Regions from separate parts of the Homo sapiens genome. Here all the other regions are linked to region 3. The links come from fine-mapping of genetic effects on gene expression. A gene starts in region 3. Each other region holds a variant in brackets. All regions are shown on one strand. Distances are from middle to middle.

The links. PIP is the estimated chance that this variant, and not a neighbour inherited with it, causes the effect.
Region 1: its variant is fine-mapped to the expression of NECTIN2 in whole blood (TOPMed, PIP above 0.99).
Region 2: its variant is fine-mapped to the expression of NECTIN2 in whole blood (TOPMed, PIP above 0.99). The same link has a PIP of 0.9 or more in blood mononuclear cells.
Region 4: its variant is fine-mapped to the expression of NECTIN2 in whole blood (TOPMed, PIP above 0.99).

Annotation. Positions count from the first base shown.
Region 1 is chr19:44,871,434-44,875,433 of GRCh38, forward strand. It overlaps NECTIN2 (nectin cell adhesion molecule 2), which reads left to right. Exons shown (of 9, transcript NM_001042724.2): 3 at 420-716; 4 at 2,483-2,600; 5 at 2,897-3,045. Among named protein-coding and RNA genes, the nearest start is that of TOMM40, 18 kb to the right of the region's middle. The variant A/C (reference allele first, on the strand shown) is at 1,575.
Region 2 is chr19:44,866,369-44,870,368 of GRCh38, forward strand. All of the region lies in intron 2 of NECTIN2 (nectin cell adhesion molecule 2), which reads left to right. Among named protein-coding and RNA genes, the nearest start is that of NECTIN2, 22 kb to the left of the region's middle. The variant C/T (reference allele first, on the strand shown) is at 2,405.
Region 3 is chr19:44,840,890-44,848,169 of GRCh38, forward strand. NECTIN2 (nectin cell adhesion molecule 2) reads left to right here and starts at 5,408. Exons shown (of 9, transcript NM_001042724.2): 1 at 5,408-5,724. The coding sequence starts at 5,637. RefSeq lists silencers at 3,772-4,171, 5,039-5,088, 5,169-5,248, 5,379-5,478 and an enhancer at 7,118-7,280.
Region 4 is chr19:44,880,318-44,884,317 of GRCh38, forward strand. It overlaps NECTIN2 (nectin cell adhesion molecule 2), which reads left to right. Exons shown (of 9, transcript NM_001042724.2): 6 at 1,894-2,047. Among named protein-coding and RNA genes, the nearest start is that of TOMM40, 8.9 kb to the right of the region's middle. RefSeq lists enhancers at 1-268, 269-1,118. The variant G/A (reference allele first, on the strand shown) is at 1,528.

The DNA.
Region 1 (4,000 bases), 29 kb after region 3:
GGGAGGATCACTTGAGCCTAGGAGGTGCAGGCTGCAGCAAGCTATGATCACACCACTGCACTCGAGACCAGGTGACAGAGCGGGCCCCTGTCTCTAAAAAATAAATAAAGTAAAATAAAATGGGCAACACTTGGATAGGGCAGTGCAGGCCAGACATTACCCTAAGCCATTTACCTATCAATGTATTATTTAATTCACACAGCAATCCTAGGGGTGGGTACTTTCATTATCCCCATTTTACAAAACAAGAAACAGCTACAGAGTTGCAAAACCACTTATCCCAAGCCAGGCCGCTGATAAGCAGCAGAGCTGGGATTGGAACCCCGGCAGTTAGGGCCTAACCACCCTGCTCCTCTGCTGAGTGTTTGTTGAATGACTGCCGGTGAGGAGTGACGCACCCCCTCTCCTCCTCTCCCCAGCCAAGCCCAAGAACCAAGCTGAGGCCCAGAAGGTCACGTTCAGCCAGGACCCTACGACAGTGGCCCTCTGCATCTCCAAAGAGGGCCGCCCACCTGCCCGGATCTCCTGGCTCTCATCCCTGGACTGGGAAGCCAAAGAGACTCAGGTGTCAGGGACCCTGGCCGGAACTGTCACTGTCACCAGCCGCTTCACCTTGGTGCCCTCGGGCCGAGCAGATGGTGTCACGGTCACCTGCAAAGTGGAGCATGAGAGCTTCGAGGAACCAGCCCTGATACCTGTGACCCTCTCTGTACGCTGTGAGTGTATCGGGGGTGACCCCTCCCCCATCAAAACTGCCTACACTGGCTTCTCTAAAGCACTGTCTACATTGTCTCTGAATGTTGTCTACGTGGGTTCCCTGAAGCCAAATTCTGCACTACCTTCCTGCCATTGTCTACACTGGCTCCCATGGGCAAATCTACATACTTCCCCCTCATTGTCTACATTGGCTTTACTGGGTTCCTGCATGCTGTGCCTAGTCTGTGGTAACCTGGGATGGGCTTGCAAGAGCCAGTTTGATACATTTCTTTCCAATTCCACATCCAATGAAGTCTTCTCGGTAGCTTGAAATCAACCTTGGGGAATATTTACACCAAGGAAATTGGCAAACCCTAGAAATGGGGGCTTCTTTTATTCCCCAGAGAGTTGGTTTACCAGCAAAGAGCTGCCCCCAACAGTGTCTTTTCTGGCTCCCATGGACCCCGGTTGACACTGCCCCTGGACCGTTAGATCAATCATGCTGGGCCATGTCCACATGTCTACATGTCTACACTGCCCAACCTAACATCGTCTCCACACCTTCCCATACTTCTGCCTTGACTTCCCTAGGTGCCATCTATACTGAGTCTCCCAGAGTCTCTACACCGACCCCTGATCCTTGATATTATTTACATTGTATTTATTATTTATTATTTATTATTATATTTTTATATATTATATATTATATAAAATATATAAATTATATATTATATATTAACATATATTTTGTCATTATTTATTATTGTTATTTAATATAATATAATTACATTATATTATATATTACATTACAGGCTCCACCCCCCGGGCCCTGTTGATCCTGACCCCTCCCACTGGGTTTTTTGCTAGCTCTTCCAGAA[A/C]CTGCCTATACTCACACCTCGTAATGTTACCCAGAGAGGCCACCCTGGCACTCTTCACACAGAATCCCTCAAATACTGGCTTAACCACCTCTTCCACCACTGTCCAAAATGACCACATATCCCAACTCAATGTTGTCTACACTAGCTCCCCAGGCAATGCCTCCACTTACACAGATTCCCTAAGCCAAGTCTACACCAGCTCCCCCAGGCAACATGCATCACGTGCGCCCATAAGTGCAACAGCTCCCCTGAGCCTCGTCTGTGCCACTTTCCTCCCGGGACCTACACTGGTTGCCCAAACCCTGTTTTGACATCCTCCCTCCATGCCAAAAACACACACACAGGCCGGGTGCGGTGGCTCACACCTGCAATCCCAGCACTTTGGGAGGCCAAGGCGGGCAGATCACTTGAGGTCAGGAGTTCGGGACTAGCCTGGGCAACATGGTGAAACCCTGTCTGTACTAAAAATACCAAAATTAGCTGGACGTGGTGGTACATGCCTGTAATCCCAGCCATTTGGGAGGCTGAGGCGGAGGGATGGCTTGAGCCCAGGACGTGGAGTTTGCAGTAAACCAGGATCACCCCACTGCTCTCCATCCTGGGCAACAGAGCAAGATCCTGTCTCAAAAACACACACACACACACACACACATTATTTGTAGTGGCTCCCTTAGGCACTGCCAGCACTGAACAATAACTCCCACAAAATTATCCACAGTGGTTTCCCTGAACAGTGTCTACACTGACATCAGCACACAACAGCCTGGACTGATTTGCCCCAGACAGTTTTGACTGCTGTACCTCCTGCCAACCCGCCCCGTTTCTTTAGCATTCCTGTCTATCTGCTAACTTGTCCACCCGCTCTGGGATTCTCCTCCTTGCTGATCCAGTCCCCCCATTTCCCCCAGACCCTCCTGAAGTGTCCATCTCCGGCTATGATGACAACTGGTACCTCGGCCGTACTGATGCCACCCTGAGCTGTGACGTCCGCAGCAACCCAGAGCCCACGGGCTATGACTGGAGCACGTGAGTCACGTGGTCTCAGAACCCTGGGTCTGAGGGAGGCGGGGCTGGGGGCCTGGACTCCTGGATCTAAGGGAGGAGGGGCTGGGGGCCTGGACTCCTGGATCTGAGGGAGGAGGGGCTGGGCCTAAATTCCTAAGTCCTCCAGGATGAAGGGAGCTTGCATTTTGGCAATTTGGGGTCTCCGGGAGTACTTAGGTCCCTGGAGCTTGGCTCCTGGTGGGTGTATCTTTAGGGATGAGGCCTGTGCTCCCCTCTCGACCTTGGTATCCCTCTCACCTGACCCCACACCCCTCCAGGACCTCAGGCACCTTCCCGACCTCCGCAGTGGCCCAGGGCTCCCAGCTGGTCATCCACGCAGTGGACAGTCTGTTCAATACCACCTTCGTCTGCACAGTCACCAATGCCGTGGGCATGGGCCGCGCTGAGCAGGTCATCTTTGTCCGAGGTGAGTGGGTCTTGGGGGCCGTGTGTGGAGACCTGGGTCCGCTCCCCTGGAGTTCTGCCCTTCAGGACTTGGGGCTGCACTGGGGGAGGCTGCGCCGCCGACCTGGGAGGGATGCAGACCTGCCTGGCTGAGGGGAGATGAGGGTTGGCCTTCCCCTCGTGGCCTCAGACTGGGGTCTGGATTTGGGGTGTCGGGGTAGGTGAAGGCAGCAGAGTTGGGGGGTTGAGGACTTTGCTCGGGGTTCCTAGAAAGTAGAGGCCTGGGTAGGGTCCTCACGAATAGACCCGAGGAAGCTGCCCTGGGCTCCAGCTCCTGAGAAAGACGCACACCTAGAGTCAGGCATGCAAACTTCAAAGAGACAGAAACCAAGAGCTCCCACCCCCAGAAACACAATCCGGCCCCAAGGCACGGAGCCAAAGAGGAAAAGCACAAAGCCAGACCATCACCCAGTGATGGAAACTGGGTCAAACTCACAACTGCAGGGCCACACACCTAGAGCGCGGCCGGGACTGTTAACAGAGCCATGCTTCCTGGGACAGAGAGACCCCTGGGTCCTGGAGATAGGGCCAGAGACCCCTCCTGTCAGAGCCACAGCTGGCAGGATCCACAGCCACAGACACTCCCTGTGCTGAGAAATTCTGTTGCAGAGATGCATCAGAATCCAGACACTCACCTGGATGGTAACCCTGCACGCTCAAACCCATTGTCACCAAGACACACACCCAGGAGGACAGTGGCACCAGCCAAGATAGACTGAACGAAGCCAGATGACACCTGGAAAGGGACATTCTTTTTTTTTTTTTTTGAGATGGAGTCTCGCTCTGTCGCCCAGGCTGAAGTGTAGTGGCGCAATCTCAGCTCACCGCAACCTCCGCCTCCCGGGTTCAAGCAATTATCCTGCCTCAGCCTCCTGAGTAGCTGGGACTATATGCGCTCACCACCAAACCCGGCTAAG
Region 2 (4,000 bases), 24 kb after region 3:
CACTCTAGCCTGGGTGACAGAGTGAGGCCCTATCTCTAATAAATAAATAAAAGAGTAAGTCAGGCAGTTAAAGGGGCCATGGAAGTTGGAGAGGGCCAAGTTGCAATTCTAGCTAAGGAGGTCTGGGGATATTTAGGCAGAAACTAGGAGAGGAGGAGCCCTCTGGGTATCTAAGGGAAGAGCGTTCCAGGCAGACGGAATGGCAAGTACAAAGGCCCTGAGACAGGAATACCTGGAGTATTTGAGGGCCAGGAAGGAAGTCAGGGTGGCTGGAGACATATGAGTGGGGGAAAGTAGGAAGCAATAAAGTCAAGGAGAGGATGGGGACAGATTGGCAAAAGCCTTGTGGACTATAAGAAGCCTTTGGCTTTTGCCCAGGGAGGATAAGAGCTGTAGTAGGTTCTTAGCAGCAGACAGGTTTGATCTGGCTTGGGTTCTCACCAGCTCCTCCTGGCTGTGTTGGGAGGGGAAAGAATGGGAGCTGAGAAACCACAGGGTAAGGCAACTACAAAGTCCGGGTGGGGCCGGGTGCTGTGGCTCACGCCCATAACCCCAGCACTCAGGGAGGCCGAGGTGGGAGGATCCCTTGAGCCTAGGAATTTGAGACCATCCTAGGCAACATAGTAAGACTCTTGTCTCAATGACAAAAAAAATTTTTTTTTTTTTTGAGACAGAGTTTTGCTCTTGTTACCCAGGCTGTAGTGGAGTGGCGCGATCTCGGCTCACTGCAACCTCCGCCTCCCAGGTTCAACCAATTCTCCTGCCTCAGCCTCCCAAGTAGCTGGGATTACAGGCTCCCACCACCACACCTAGCTAAATTTTTTTGTATTTTTAGTAGAGACGGGGTTGCACCATGTTGGCCAGGCTGGTCTTGAACTCCCGACCTCAGGTGATCCGTCCACCTGGGCCTCTCAAAGTGCTGGGATTATAGGCATGAGCCACTGAGCCTGGCCAGGAAAGAAAAAAAAATTGTTTTAATTAACCAGGCTCAGTGACTTACCTGTAATTTCAGCTACTCGAGAGACTGAGGTGGGAGGATCACCTGAGCCCAGGAGGTTGAGGCTGCAGTGAGCTGTGATTGTGCTACTGCACTCCATCCTGGACAAGAGAGCGAGACCCTGTCTTAAAACAAGTCCAGTCCGGGCAGGAAGTAAAACGGCTTAGAAGTAGGGGACATAGTGGCCTCATTGAGATAGGATGTGCAGGGAAGGCGTCTTAGTCAAGTCCTGGAGTCTGAGAAGGAGCTACCTTTGGGCATAGCAGAGGGGCACGGGCACAGAAACCTGGGAGGTGGGCATGAGATGGGAGCTGGGCGCGTTCCAGGAATGGAAAGGGGGCTGGTGAGGATAGGCAAGGGCTTGGGTGACCCTCAGCGGGGCCACATTACACGGGCTTCACAGGTGGAGGCGAGGAGGCTGGACTATGCCCTCAGCATGGTTAAGAGCCATGGGAGGTGTCAAGCCACAGGAGAGATCTGGACAAACGTTTGAGGTTGCAAAAAATGACCGGCAGCAGTATGAGGAGTGATTGGAGGAGTGGACGGAGGTAGAAGGGAGCTGGGACGAGAGGGGAGAAGAGGCATTGCTGGGAAGACGGATGAGGCAGTGGGGGGCAGAGGGAAGCGGGCGGCATATAGTGGTGTTTTTAGAAGATAGTAGGTGCTGGGCTTGCCCATGGATTGAGGGGGAAGCAGGATCAGAGAGGAGTCCCAGGCCTGGTGCGGTGGCTCACGCCTGTAATCCCAGCACTTTAGGAGGCCAAGGTGGGCAGATCGCTTTGAGGTCAGGAGTTTCAGACCACTCTGGGCAACATGGTGAGGCCCCATCTCTACAAGAAAAAAAAAAATTAGCTGGGCATGGTAGCACACACCTGTAGTCCCAGCTACCCAAGAGGCTGAGGTGGGAGGATCGCTTGGGCCTGGGAAGCAGAGATTGCAAGTGAGCCAAGATTGCACCACTGCACTCCAGCACGAGACCCTGTCTCAAAAAAAAAAAAAAAAAAATAGGACTCCCAGCGGGAAGGTGACTGATACTTGGCAAAAATAGAGAAGGCAGGGAAGATTTTTTTTGAAGGATGCTTTTTTTTCTTTTCCTTTTTCTTTTTTTTTTTTTTTCTTTTTTTGAGACAAAGTCTCACTACATTGTCCAGGCTAGACTCGAACTCCTGGGCTCAGGGGATCCTCCTACCTCCGCCTCCTGCATAGCTGGGATTACAGGCATGAGTCACCACATCCAGCTACGAATGCTCTTTCTTTAAATCTTGAGGCTGGGCGTGGTGGCTCACTCCTGTAATCCCAGCACTTTGGGAGGCCGAGGCGGGCGGATCACGAGGTCAGGAAATCGAGACCATCCTGGCTAACACGGTGAAACCCCATCTCTACTAAAAATACAAGAAATTAGCCAGG[C/T]GTGGTGGCGGGTGCCTTAGTCCCAGCTACTCGGGAGATTGAGGCAGGAGAATGGCTTGAACCCGGGAGGCGGAGCTTGCAGTGAGCCGAGATCGCGCCACTATACTCCAGCCTGGGCGACAGAGTGAGACTCTGTCTGGAAAAAAAAAAAAATATGTTGGAAGTCCCCTGGGAGCCCACCTTCCCTAGGCAACTTCCCAGAAGCCACGTCACTCTGGATGCCTTTTCTTCCCCCTTCTCAGCCCAGAGCGTCTGAGAAGGTCACCCTGTGCTATCCTTGAGTAAACACTTCCCTTTCCAGTAACACATGAAACCACAGCCGTTTTCCATAATACAAAGGACAGCTCTTCTCCTCCCCACCCTCACAAACGCCTCTCTTCTTGTGCAATCATTTGTTCTCATCCAGAGATAACTTCAGGGCTGGGCACGGTGGCTCACACCTGTAATCCCAGCACTTTGGGAGGCTGAGAGGCAACAAGAGCAAAACTCTGTCTCAAAATAAATAAATAAATAATGAGACTCAGAAAATATGATTAAGGGCCAGGCGCAGTGGCTCACGCCTGTAATCCCAGCACTTTGGGAGGCCGAGGCAGGCGGATCACGAGGTCAGGAGATTGAGACCATCCTGGCTAACACGGTGAAACCCTGTCTCTACTAAAAATACAAAAAAATTAGCCGGGCGTGGTGGCGGGTGCCTGTAGTCCCAGCTACTTGGGAGGCTGAGGCAGGAGAATGGCATGAACCCAGGAGGCGGAGCTTGCAGTGAGCCGAGATCGCATCACTGCACTCCAGCCTGGGCGACAGAGCGAGACTCCATCTCAAAAAAAAAAAAAAAAAGAAAAGAAAATATGATTAAGTGTAGGGTTTAATCAAGCCCAAAGCTTGAGGATGACCACCTGGGAGCATAGATTGAAGTTGCCCTGAATATACACTTCAAGCAGGGGCCAAGGCAAGCAGCTCTTGCAAGTGAGCTTTTGTTTGTTTGTTTGTTTCTTGGAGAGAGGGTCTCCAAAACTACAAATAAAAATTAGCTAGGAATGGTGGCGCACACCTGTAATCCCAGCTACTCAGGAGGCTAAGGCAGGCGAATTGCTGAAACCAGCAAGGGCAGGTTGCAGTAAGCTGAGATTGCACCACTGCACTGCATCCTGGGTGACAGCAAGACTCTGTCTCAAATTAATAAAAAAAAAAGAGAGAGAGAGAGATAACCTCAAGAGCTTCCGTATACACACTGGTGCAGAAGTAAGGAACAAAACAGCCAAAGCCTCTGTCTTCATGATGCGTGAGCCACCAAGGAATAGTTGGCCAGAGTCGGCGGTCAGGAAAGTGCCCTTGACGAAGTGGGGCTTGGAGTGGGGTCTGGAGAAGGAGGCCAAAGCAATCCAGGCACAAAATCACCAACCAAAACCCCAAAGTGGGTGGAGGCAGAGACTGAGGAGGGCGTGGATGGGGAGCATGTGGAGTGGCCAGGGGAGGTGGCCATGGGGAAGTGGTGGGCTCGGGCCCTGAGTCACTATTCTAACAGCTTGGAGGGCGGCCAGGAGGATGTGGGGAGGCTTGTTGGATGCTCCACGATGGTCAGGGGAGAAGGCGGTG
Region 3 (7,280 bases):
AATGAGCCATGATTGTACCACTGCACTCCAGTCTGGCCAACAGAGCATGACCCTGTCTCAGAATAAGAGCCGGGTATGGTGGCTCACGTTTGTGATTCCAGCACTCTGGGAGGCCGAGGCAGGCAAATTGCTTGAGCCCAAGAGTTCAAGACCAGCCTCGGCAACAACCCAAAAACCCATCTCTACAAAAAAATAGAAAAATTAGCCAAGCATAGTGGCACATGCCTGTAGTCCCAGCTACTCGGGAAGTTGACATGGAAGGATCCCGAGCCAGGGAGGTCATGGCTGCAGTGAGCCATGGTAATGTCACCACACTCCAGCCTGAGCGACAGAGTGAGACCCTGTCTTAATTAAAAAAAAAAAAAAAAGACTGAGGGGAGGAAGTGGTTAGGGGAGCTGCTGCTGCTGCTAAAAGAAAGGAAAGGTTGCCAGGCAGGTAAAATACTTGGCATCAGCTCCATAGCTCCGTCAGGAAGCCTTTGCCCCTACCTATGCCCCTACCTTCTAGTGGTTATGGCTCTTCAGTGAAGTGCCACCTCTGGGACTCCTTGACACTAAAAGTCAACTCCCCAGGCGGGCGTGGAACCCACCCAGTCATTTGTCACCAAACTTGGTGCTCAGCCTCATGCTTGTGACCCAAGGGTGTGAAACTCCAGCCTACACCTCTGGGGCATTTTTTTCTTTCTTTTTTTTTTTTTCCTTTTTTTTTTGGCAGAGCCTTGCTGTCACCCAGGCTGGAGTGCAGTGGCACAATCTTGGCTCACTGCAACCTCCACCTCCCGGGTTCAAGCGATTCTCCGGCTTCAGTCTCCCAAGTAGCTGGGATTATAGGCACCCGCCACCACATCCTGCTAATTTTTGTATTTTCAGTAGAGACAGGGTTTCACCACGTAGGCCAAGCTGGTCTCAAACTCCTGACCTCAGGTGATCCATCTGTCTCGGCCTCCCAAAGTACTGGGATTACAGGCTTGAGCCACCATGGCCAGCCTCCTGGGGCTTTCTTCCTGGGCTCATCCCTGCTCACAAAGAACAGCCAGGAGAGAGCTAAGCCCACTCATTCGTAGGCCAGGAGAAAGGAGGTGCTAGAGGCCTTCCTAGAAGAAGACTTCCTGGGGACTGGTTCTTTTGTTCAATGGATAAACGGGGGTCCCAGGATTTTGCAAAGCAAGTTAGTAGCAAGGCTGGCACTAAAACCCAGAGGTCCTGGTCCACAAACCTGGCCTCAGATTGGGGAGAGAAGGTCAGAGAGATCTAAAGCACATTTATTGCCAGGCGCGATGGCTCACACCTGTAATCCCAGCACTTTGGGAGGCTGAGGTGAGAGGATCACTTGAGGGCAGGAGTTCAAGACCAGCCTGGGCAACAAAGCGAGAATCAAATTCTACAAAACATTTAAAAATGCACCGAGCAGCCGGGCACAGTGGCTCACGCCTGTAATCCCAGCACTTTGGGAGGCCGAGGCAGGTGGAGCACGAGGTCAGGAGATCGAGACCATCCTGGCTAAGACCATGAAACCTCGTCTCTACTAAAAATACAAAAAATCAGCTGGGCGTGGTGGCAGGCACCTGTAGTCCCAGCTACTCGAGAGGCTGAGGCAGGAGAATGGCATGAACCTGGGAGGCGGAGCTTGCACTGAGCCAAGATCGCGCCACTGCACTCCAGCCTGGGCGACAGAGCAGAGACTGTCTCAAAAAAAAAAAATGCACCGAGCATAGTGGCACATGCCTGTAGTCCCAGCTACTCAGGAGGCTGAGGCAGAGGATCCCTTGGGCTGGGAAGTTTGAGGTTAGAGGGAGCCAAGATCTGCACTCCAACCTGGGCGACAAAGCACAACCCTGCCTCAAAATTAAATACATAAATAAATTAAGCACATTTATTTATTTTACTGTTTTATTTTATTATTATATATATTTTAAGAGACGGGGCTCTACCATGTTGCCAGGCGTGTCTTGAACCCCTAAATTCAAGTGATCTGCCAGCCTTGGCCTCCCAAAGTGCTGGGATTGCAGACATGAGCCACTGCGCAAGGCCTATTTGTGTATTTATTTATTTTAGAGACAAAATCTCTCTGTCTCCCAGGCTGGAGTGCAGTGGCTCAATCACAGCTCACTGCAGCCTCAACCTCCCTGGGCTCAGGTGATCCTCCCACCTCGGCCTCCCGAGTAGCTGTAGCTGCTATGCATTTATTATGTGTGCGCCTATTTGTCCAGCCATCCTCACACCCAGTTTGTGCCAAGCCTGAGACACAAGCTATCTGGAGCTCACATGGCATGGAGGTTAAAAGCACAGACTGGCCGGGTGCAGTAGCTCACCCCTGTAATCCCAGCACTTTGGGAGGCTAATGCAGGCAGATCACAAGGTCAGGAGTTCGAGACCAGCCTGACCAACATGGTGAAAGCCCGTCACTACTAAAAATACAAAAATTAGCCGGGCGTGGTGGTGCGTGCCTGTAATCCCAGCTACTCAGGAGGCTGAGGCAGGAGAATCACTCAAACCTGGGGGGCGGAGGTTGCAGCGAGCCGAGATTGATTGCGCCACTGCACTCCAGCCTTGGCAACAGAGCCAGACTCCGTCTCAAAAACAAAAAGAGCACAGACCATCCGGGCCCAAAAGAAGCACCCGGCCTGCTATGTGTCTTTGCTGGGTGGCTTGGGGCAAACAACCACCCTGTGCCTCAGTTTACTTTTCAGTGAAATGGGGATCACCATGGTGTCCCCTTCATGGGATCCCTGTGAGGAACTAACTAAGAGAAATAAGGTGCTTAGAAGAGTCAGCTCTGGCTCTGCCATTTTGTTTATTTTTATTTATTTTTAATTTCTATTTTATTTTATGTTTTTCAGACTGAGTCTCACTCTGTTGCCCAGGCTGGAGTGCAGTGGTGCGATCTCGGCTCACTGCAACCTCCAACTCCCGGGTTCAAGCGATTCTCCTGCCTCAGCCTCCCAAGTAGAGACAGGGTTTCACCATGTCGGCCAGGCTGGTCTCGAACTCCTGAACTCAAGTGATCCACCCGCCTCAGCCTCCCAAAGTGCTGGGATTACAGGCGTCAGCCAGGGCGCCCCGCCCTGGCTCTGCCATTTTGTAACTCAGTGAGTCACTTCATCTCTCTGCTTCAGTTTCCCTATCGCCCATGGCGCTGCATGGCTTACATGAGATAATATTCGCAGTGCACTTAGATCAGTGCCTGGCACACGGTAAGTGCTGACTACATGTATTAACAGTATCGTAAGTGCCGGGCGCGGTGGCTCACACCTGCAATCCCAGCATTTTGGGAGGCTGAAGCGGGTGGATCAGGAGGTCAGGAGTTTGAGACCAGCCTGACCAACATGGTGAAACCCCGTCTCTACTAAAAATACAAAAATTAGCCGGGCGTGGTGGCGCGCGCCTGTAATCCCAGCTACTCAGGAGGCTGACTCAGGAGAATCGCTTGAACCCAGGAGGCAGAGGTTGCAGTGAGCCGAGATCGCGCCACTGCCCTCCAGCCTGGGCGACAGAGCGAGACTCCGTCTCAAAGAAAAAAAAAAAAAAAGGATCATAACTAAGACTCGAATGCGGAGGGATAACAGCCTCTGCTACTTGAAACCTAGTCCTTCTGGGGAGGAAAGCCCAGGTGTGTGGCAGGTGGAAGGGAGGGCGAGCCTAGGTGGTCCTCTTGCTAGGGCAAGAAGCCCCCAAGCACCTGCCCCCAGCTGAGCAGCTCCGCGCCTCCTGGCCCTGGACGAACTTGGGCCCAGACTGGCGCTCCGTGGCACCCCCTCCCCCGGCCTCCCGCTTCGCGCCCTCATCCCGCCCCCCGGCGCGGCCTCACCAGCTCCCCCTGGGCAGCCCAAAGAATGCGAAGAGGTAGGTGGGGGTAGGGAGGAGGGCGAGCCGCTGGGAGAGACAAAGGGCCCGAGTCTGAGCGAGAGACACAAAGACGCGAGGAGGCTGGGGAGATAGGGGAAGTGGGACAAGGACGCGGGGAGTGACCAGGTCCGGAGGCCGGACTGGAGCCCAGCCCCACCCAGCCCGGCCGGGCCAGCGCAGCGCGGGGGCCGGTCTCTGCTGCCCCCTGGCGGGTGGCTGCGGTGAGAAGGCGGCGCGGAGCAGGTGTTGGGAGGGGAGGACCAGGGCGCGCAGGGAGGTAGGGAGGGAAGGAAGCAGAGAACAGAGCAGGGACAGAGAGACAGCGAGAGAGACTCGCACGCAGAGACAAGAGACGCCGAGAGGGAGACACAGAGAAAGAGACAGGGACAGAGAGACACAGATAGAGACAGAGAGAGACACACGGAGAGACAGAGACAGAGAAGCACAGAGATAGAGAGGCACAGAGATAGAGACAGAGAAACACAGAGACAGAGAGGCACACAGAGACAGAGAGGCACAGAGACAGGCCGATAGAGACAGAGATACACAGAAATAGAGACAGAGACAGAGAGGCACACAGATAGAGACAGAGAGACACAGAGACAGAGTCAAAGGATGGAAAGAGACATGGGGACCAAGTGACCCAGAAACAGTGACAGACAGGCCGGGCTTGGTGGCTCACGCCTGTAATCCCAGCATCTTGGGAGGCCGAGCCGGGAGGATCGCTTGAGGCCAGCCTCAGCAACATAGTGAGACCCCGCCGCCCCCCCGCCCCGTCTCTTTTATTGAAATAAAGAAACAGTGACTGACAAAGGAAGACCAGAAACAGAGCGACACCGAAGCATGAGGACGGAAAGACCCAGAGAGGCAGAAATACAGGGACAGAGAGGAAGACCCAAAGAGAGTGAGAGAGACACAAAGACACGTAAGAGAGACAGAGAAATCCAGAAAGAAACGAGTGCAGCGACACCTAGAGTTCGGGGCAGAGATTAGAAACGCACGAGGGTACGAGAAACAGGCTCAGGGCGATGGGCTCGACCTGCGGGGAGGTCGCACAACCGGGACGTGCTGGGGGCAGAACCGTAAAGCCCCACGTGCCTCAGGCAACTGTGATGAGAGGACCCGGGCAGGCAGGAAAGGGCAGGATTCGAACTGTGGGTGGGACAGAGGCCAGGACGGACTGAGCTAAGAGACCGAGAGAACTCCGGCTAGGGCGAGGGGCGGGGCTGGTGGAGGCGGGGCTGGTGGGGGCGGAGTCGGCCGGAAGGGCCGAAAGGGGCGTGGCAAGACCTTGGCGAGGCGGCCGGTAGGCAGGGGGCGGGGCGTGGGAACTACTCGGGAGCAGAGGGGGCGTGGCTAGACCTTAGGGGGCGTGGTTTAACGCCGGGAGCGAAGGAGACAGAATTCTTTGGCAGGGGCGACCTTAGAATCCTGGGGAGGAGCGAGAATGGAATCCCGGGGAGGAACAGGGGTGGAATCCGGGGGGCGGGGTCAGAACGCCAGGAGGGGGCGGGGCCGGAGCCAGGGTCGGCTTGACTCGGGGGAGCAGCGGGTGGATCCTGTGACGTCAGCGGGTTCGAACCGCCGGAGCTGAGCGAGAGGCCGGGGGTGCCGAGCCGGGCGGGGAGAGCTGGGCCGGGAGAGCAGAACAGGGAGGCTAGAGCGCAGCGGGAACCGGCCCGGAGCCGGAGCCGGAGCCCCACAGGCACCTACTAAACCGCCCAGCCGATCGGCCCCCACAGAGTGGCCCGCGGGCCTCCGGCCGGGCCCAGTCCCCTCCCGGGCCCTCCATGGCCCGGGCCGCTGCCCTCCTGCCGTCGAGATCGCCGCCGACGCCGCTGCTGTGGCCGCTGCTGCTGCTGCTGCTCCTGGAAACCGGTGAGACGAGCGGACGGCCCCCTGCCCTCGCGCGGACCCCCTCCAACCTTACCTTCCGAGCTGGGGAAGCCGAGCACCTTCCCCGCCCACCCCCGGCTCCCCGAGCCCCCTCTCGCGTGCCCCCTTCCTGGCTGGCCCCACAGACTCCGACCCCCTACACGTCCGATTCTCTCGAGGAGACTCTGACCCCTCCTTTCTGCATCTCTCTCACCACCACCCCCATCCTTCTTAATCCAATTGCCCATCCTACGCCTGCTTGTCTGTCCCCCTCCCCATTTCTCGGATTCCCGCGCCGAAAGGGTTAAATCCCAGGAAGGCCTGGTGCCCCCTCCCCACCCCGCGCCGAGTAGTTCACCCGGATCTGGGTCTCTGTCTCCTCTACCCCTCTCAGGAATGTGGGGAATGTTCCCCCCACCTACCGCAGTAAGGTCTCGAGGAAGAGGCGAGACCACCTCCCTCCCCTATTTTTCCTTCTTCCCGGCTTGGGCGTCTGAGGCCCGGAGAGAACTGAGGACAAGCGGACCTGATTCGGGTCCCTTGGAGGGCTAAGGATAAGAGTTCTGGCGACTTAGGGGGAAGGGCCTGAGCTCGGAGCTCCAACCCCGAACCTCAGGGAGTTGGGGGTTCTGACTCCGTGGACTCCAGAAAAATTAGGGGCCGGGGGCTCCGTCTTCAGGGTCCCTGGTAGAATGGAGGCTAGGCGCTAAGTCTAACTGGGATCTAGGTAAAACTGGGGGCGAGAGAGGATCAAACTTGTAGCTTCTGGATTTAATTGTGGGCAGGGGGCTTCGTTTTCAGGGTTCCCGGCAGAACCGGGGGACAGGAGACTCGATCTCGTGGGCTTCAGACTTAATTGTAGGCAGAGGAACGTCTTCTGAGATCCAAACAGAAGTGCGAGCAGCGGGCCCCGTCTCTTGGGCTCCAGATATGATCAAGGGTCGAAGGCTCTGTCTTGAGGCTGGAGTCTCAGTCGCCTGAGTCCCAGATAGAACGGGAGGCCCCGAGTCCCAGAGGCTGGGAGACTCCTCCCTTTCCCTATGAATGGTCGGGGGCGACGGAGACGTCGCCGGGGAAGTTTTCCTGGTTTCACTCTCGCCGAGCCAGGGAGGGGCGGGGCGGGCGCTCCTGGCTCCGGGTTCCGGACTCCCCGGTTTCGGGACCTTATCTATCCTCTGGTAGCGCCTTTGTCCTCAGAGCCATAGCAGGAGGTGGACGAGTGGAGCCGCCGCCCTTATCCCCCGTCCCTCCCATTGCTATGCCTTGGACCCCCTGGCGTCCTTCCATCCACCCCACTAGGGGAGGAGAGCGGCCCCCCTGGGGAGGGAGGGGCTGGGAGGGAACCCTTGAAAGAGGCGCTGGCCCCGCCCCTTGCAGGTGACCCGGTTGTGTATTCCCAGCGACAAACTCTGGGATGCTAGAGTTTCCCGAGGGTTTGCGCAGAAGAGAGCTCAGGGGGATCTTGGGGGAACCCCGGCCACCTCTCTGGCCTCATTTCCCCCAGGATGGCTCTCACTGGCCTCCCAGCTTTGACCCAGAGCTGGGAACTCCGCTTCCAT
Region 4 (4,000 bases), 38 kb after region 3:
ACAGTCTAGTATGGAAATTGGCAAGTAAACGGGTAACCACTCCAAAAACTCTTCCATTAGGAAAGACTTGAGAAATGGAAACGGGAGGTGCTAGCAAGGAAGGAGAGGCCCAGGAGCAAACAGGCTTCTCGCTTCTCGACCCCTTTTCCTGTCTTGCCTTTTTTTTTTTTTTTTTTTTTTTTTTTTTTGAGACGGTGTCTAGCTCTGTTACCCAGGCTGGAGTGCAGTGGTACGATCTCGGCTCACTGCACCCTCCACCTCCCAAGTTCAAGCAATTCTCCTGTCTCAGCCTCTTGAGTAACGCACCCAGCCTTTTTTTTTTTAAGAAGTGGGGTGGTCTCCCTATATTACCCAGATTGGGCTCAAACTCCTGGGCTCAAGCGATCGATCCTCCCACTTCAGCCTCCAAAAGTGCTGGGATGACAGGTGTGAGTCACTGTGCCTGGCCCCTGGCTAATTTTTTTTTTTTTTTTTTAAGACGGAGTTTCACTCTTATCCAGGCTGGAGTGCAATGGCGCGATCTTGGCTCACGGCAACCTCCGCTTCCCAGGTTCAAGCAATTCTCCTGCCTCAGCCTCCTGAGTAGCTGGGATTACAGGCGCGCGCTAGCATGCCCAGCTAACATTTTGTATTTTTAGTAGAGACAGGGTTTCTCCATGTTGGTCAGGCTGGTCTCAAACTCCCAACCTCAGGTAATCCACCTGCCTCGGCCTCCCAAAGTGCTGGGATTACAGGCGTGAGCCAACGCGCCCGGCTAGCCCCCGGCTAATTTTTAAAATTTTTTCTAGAGATGAGGTCTTGTGCTCGTTGCCCTGGCTGGTCTTGAACAATCCGCCCGCCTCGCCCTCCCAAAGCGCTGGGATTACAGGCGTCAGTCACTGCCCCAAGCCCTAACCCCCTTCCTGATAAGTGGAAGGAGATTCTAGTCCCCAGAGGTGATTCTGGATCCCAGAATTCTGTCCCCGCATTCTCTGTCTTCTAGCCGCCCCTGGTCCTGTCTCCTCTCCTCTCATCTTCCCACTCTGCCCCGCCTCATTCTGCCCCAGCTACACAGTCTACTTGCTGTTCTTTAAAAACAATACAAGGCAGGCCGAGCACGGCATAATCCCAGAACGTTGGGAGGCCGAGGCGGGAGGATCACTTGAGCCCAGGAGTTCAAGACCAGCCTGGGCAACATGGCAAAACCCCATCTCTACAAAAAAATTCAAAAAAAAAAAAAAAAAGCTGGGCCTGGCGGCACATGCCTGTAGTTCCAGCCACTCCGGAGGGTGAGGTGGGAGGATCGCTTGAGCCCAGGAGATTGGGGCTACAGTTGGTGGTGATCATGCCACTGCACTCTAGCCTGGGTGACAAAGCGAGACCGTCTCAAAAAAAACCATAGAGCCCCACAAGCCTCCTGCAGGGCCGCTGGCTGTTTGCGCTGCCTGCGATACCCCCAGACACTCTCATGACTCATCCCCGGTGTCTCTTTCAGGCCCTTGCTCAGTTGTCACCTTACAGTAAGGTAGAGGCCCTCCCACTACCTTC[G/A]GGGACCCCACTTTGCACCTCCTATCACTTCCGCACTGTATATTTTTGTATCCCCCGTGACTTACTCCCATCTGGCATGTGAGCTATTGTACTGGTTTGCTTACTGTTGTTCTCCCTGCCCAACCAGAATCAAAGTTCCATGAAGGTAGACACTTTGTATGTTTTGTTCTCCACTCATCTCCCATGCGGGGCACACATCCTCGCTCCTTCCTCATGCTCAGCAGTTTGAGTTGAATGAAAGAATGTCCCCTGCCCATGGGAGAGGACATAGACAGGCAGGCGATGATGTGGGGTGGGATGGTCGCTTGGAATAAGGAGCTGTGGCTTCCTCCTGGAGACCCCCTCACGCTGTCCCTCTCCTTGCAGAGACCCCCAACACAGCAGGCGCAGGGGCCACAGGCGGCATCATCGGGGGCATCATCGCCGCCATCATTGCTACTGCTGTGGCTGCCACGGGCATCCTTATCTGCCGGCAGCAGCGGAAGGAGCAGACGCTGCAGGGGGCAGAGGAGGACGAAGAGTAAGTGATGGGCCCTGAGACGGGGATGGGAGAGGGGTCGAAGAACTGAGGAGTATGGGGTAGGGGTGAGGGTGGGAGAAAATTCTCCATAATGGCTGTGTGAAACAGACAGACCTAAAGGAACTGGGGTCTAAATGGAGTAGGGAGGTATGGGTTTCTCTCTGCTATAAAGTATGGCATTGAATTTAAAAATTAGCTGGGGGCCAGGCACAGTGGCTTACACCTGCCATCCCAGCACTTTTGGAGGCTGAGGTGGGGAGATCGATCGTTTGAGCCCAGGAATTTGAGCCCAGTCTGGGTAACATAGGAAGACTACCCCCATCTACAAAAAAAAAAAAAAAAAAAAAAAAATGGCCACGCAGGGTGGCTCTGACCGCTCCGCTCTGCAAAGACTCCTCGGAGCCCAGGATCCTACTACATTTTTTTTTTTTTTTTGTGACGGAGTCTCACTCTGTCACCGAGGCTGGAATACAGTGATGCAATCTCGGCTCACTGCAAGCTCTGCCTCCCAGGTTAAAGCAATTCTCCTGCCTCAGCCTCCGGAGTAGCTGGGAATACAGGCGCCCACCACCATGCCCAGCTAATTTTTTGGATTTTTAGTAGAGACAGGGTTTCACTGTGTTAGCCAGGATGGTCTCTATCTCCTGACCTTGGGATCCCCCCTCCTCAGACTCCAAAAGTGCTGGGATTACAGGCGTGAGCCACCATGGCTGGCCAGTTGTTAATAAAAGAAGAAAGGGCGGTTCCTAAATTGTTATGGAGAATTTACATTAAAATAACGTAAGCTATTGATTGGCTATCCATTGCTCTTTGTATCACAAATTCCAGAAACCTGAAGATAAAGAGTAACACTGGTCAGGCAGGGTGGGTCAGGCAGGGTGGCTCCTGCCTCTAATCCCAGCACTTTGTTTTGTTTTTGTTTTTGTTTAAGATGGAGTCTTGGTCTGTCGCCCTGGCTGGAGTGCCAAGGCGCCATCTCGGCTCACTGCAACCTCCGCCTCCCTGGTTCAAGCGATTCTCCAGCCTCAGCCTCTCGAGTAGCTGGGATTACAGATGCGCGCCACCACGCCCGGCTAATTTTTGTATTTTTAGTAGAGACGGAGTTTCACCATGTTGGCCAGGCTACTCTTGAACTCCTGACCTCAAGTGATCCACCCGCCTCGGCCTCCCAAAGTGCTAAGATCACAAGCATGAGCCACTGCGCCCAGCCAATGCCAGCACTTTGGAAGGCCAAGGCTCTTGTTGCTAGTGGTTCGAGACCAGACTGAACATCAAAGTGAGACACCATCTCTAAAAAAATAAAACAAACAAAATTAGCCAGGCAAAGTGGTGCACACCTGTGGTCCAGCTCCTCAGGAGGCTGGGGTGGGAGGTCACTTGAGCCCAGGAGCTCAAGTCTGCAATGAGCTATGATCATGCCACTGCACTCTAGCCCAGGTGACAGAGCAAGACCCTGTATCTTAAAAAATAAAAGACTGGGCACGGTGCCTCACACCTGTAATCCCAGCACTTTGGGAAGCCAACCCAAGTAGATAACTTGAGCTCAGGAGTTCGAGACCAGCCTGGGCAACATGGCGAAACCTGTCTACAAAAAAAATACAAAAATTACCCAGACCTGGTAGCCCATGCCTGTAGTCCCAGCTACTTGGGTGGGCTGAGGTGGGGGTGGGGGCATGTGGAGGCTGCAGTGAGCTATGATCACACCACTGTACTCCAGTCTGGCCAACAGAGTGAGACCTTGTAAAAAAAAAAAAAGAAAAGAAAAATAGCTCAGAGCAGTCTGAGGTATGCGAGCTATGCAAAATTTGTTTTTTTGAGACAGGATCTCACTCTGTCCCTCAGGCTAGAGTTCAGTGGTATAATCTGAGCTCACTGCAACCTTCGCCTCCTGAGCTCAACCAATCTTCCTACCGCAGCCTCCCAAGTAAATGGGACCACGTACCACCACACCTA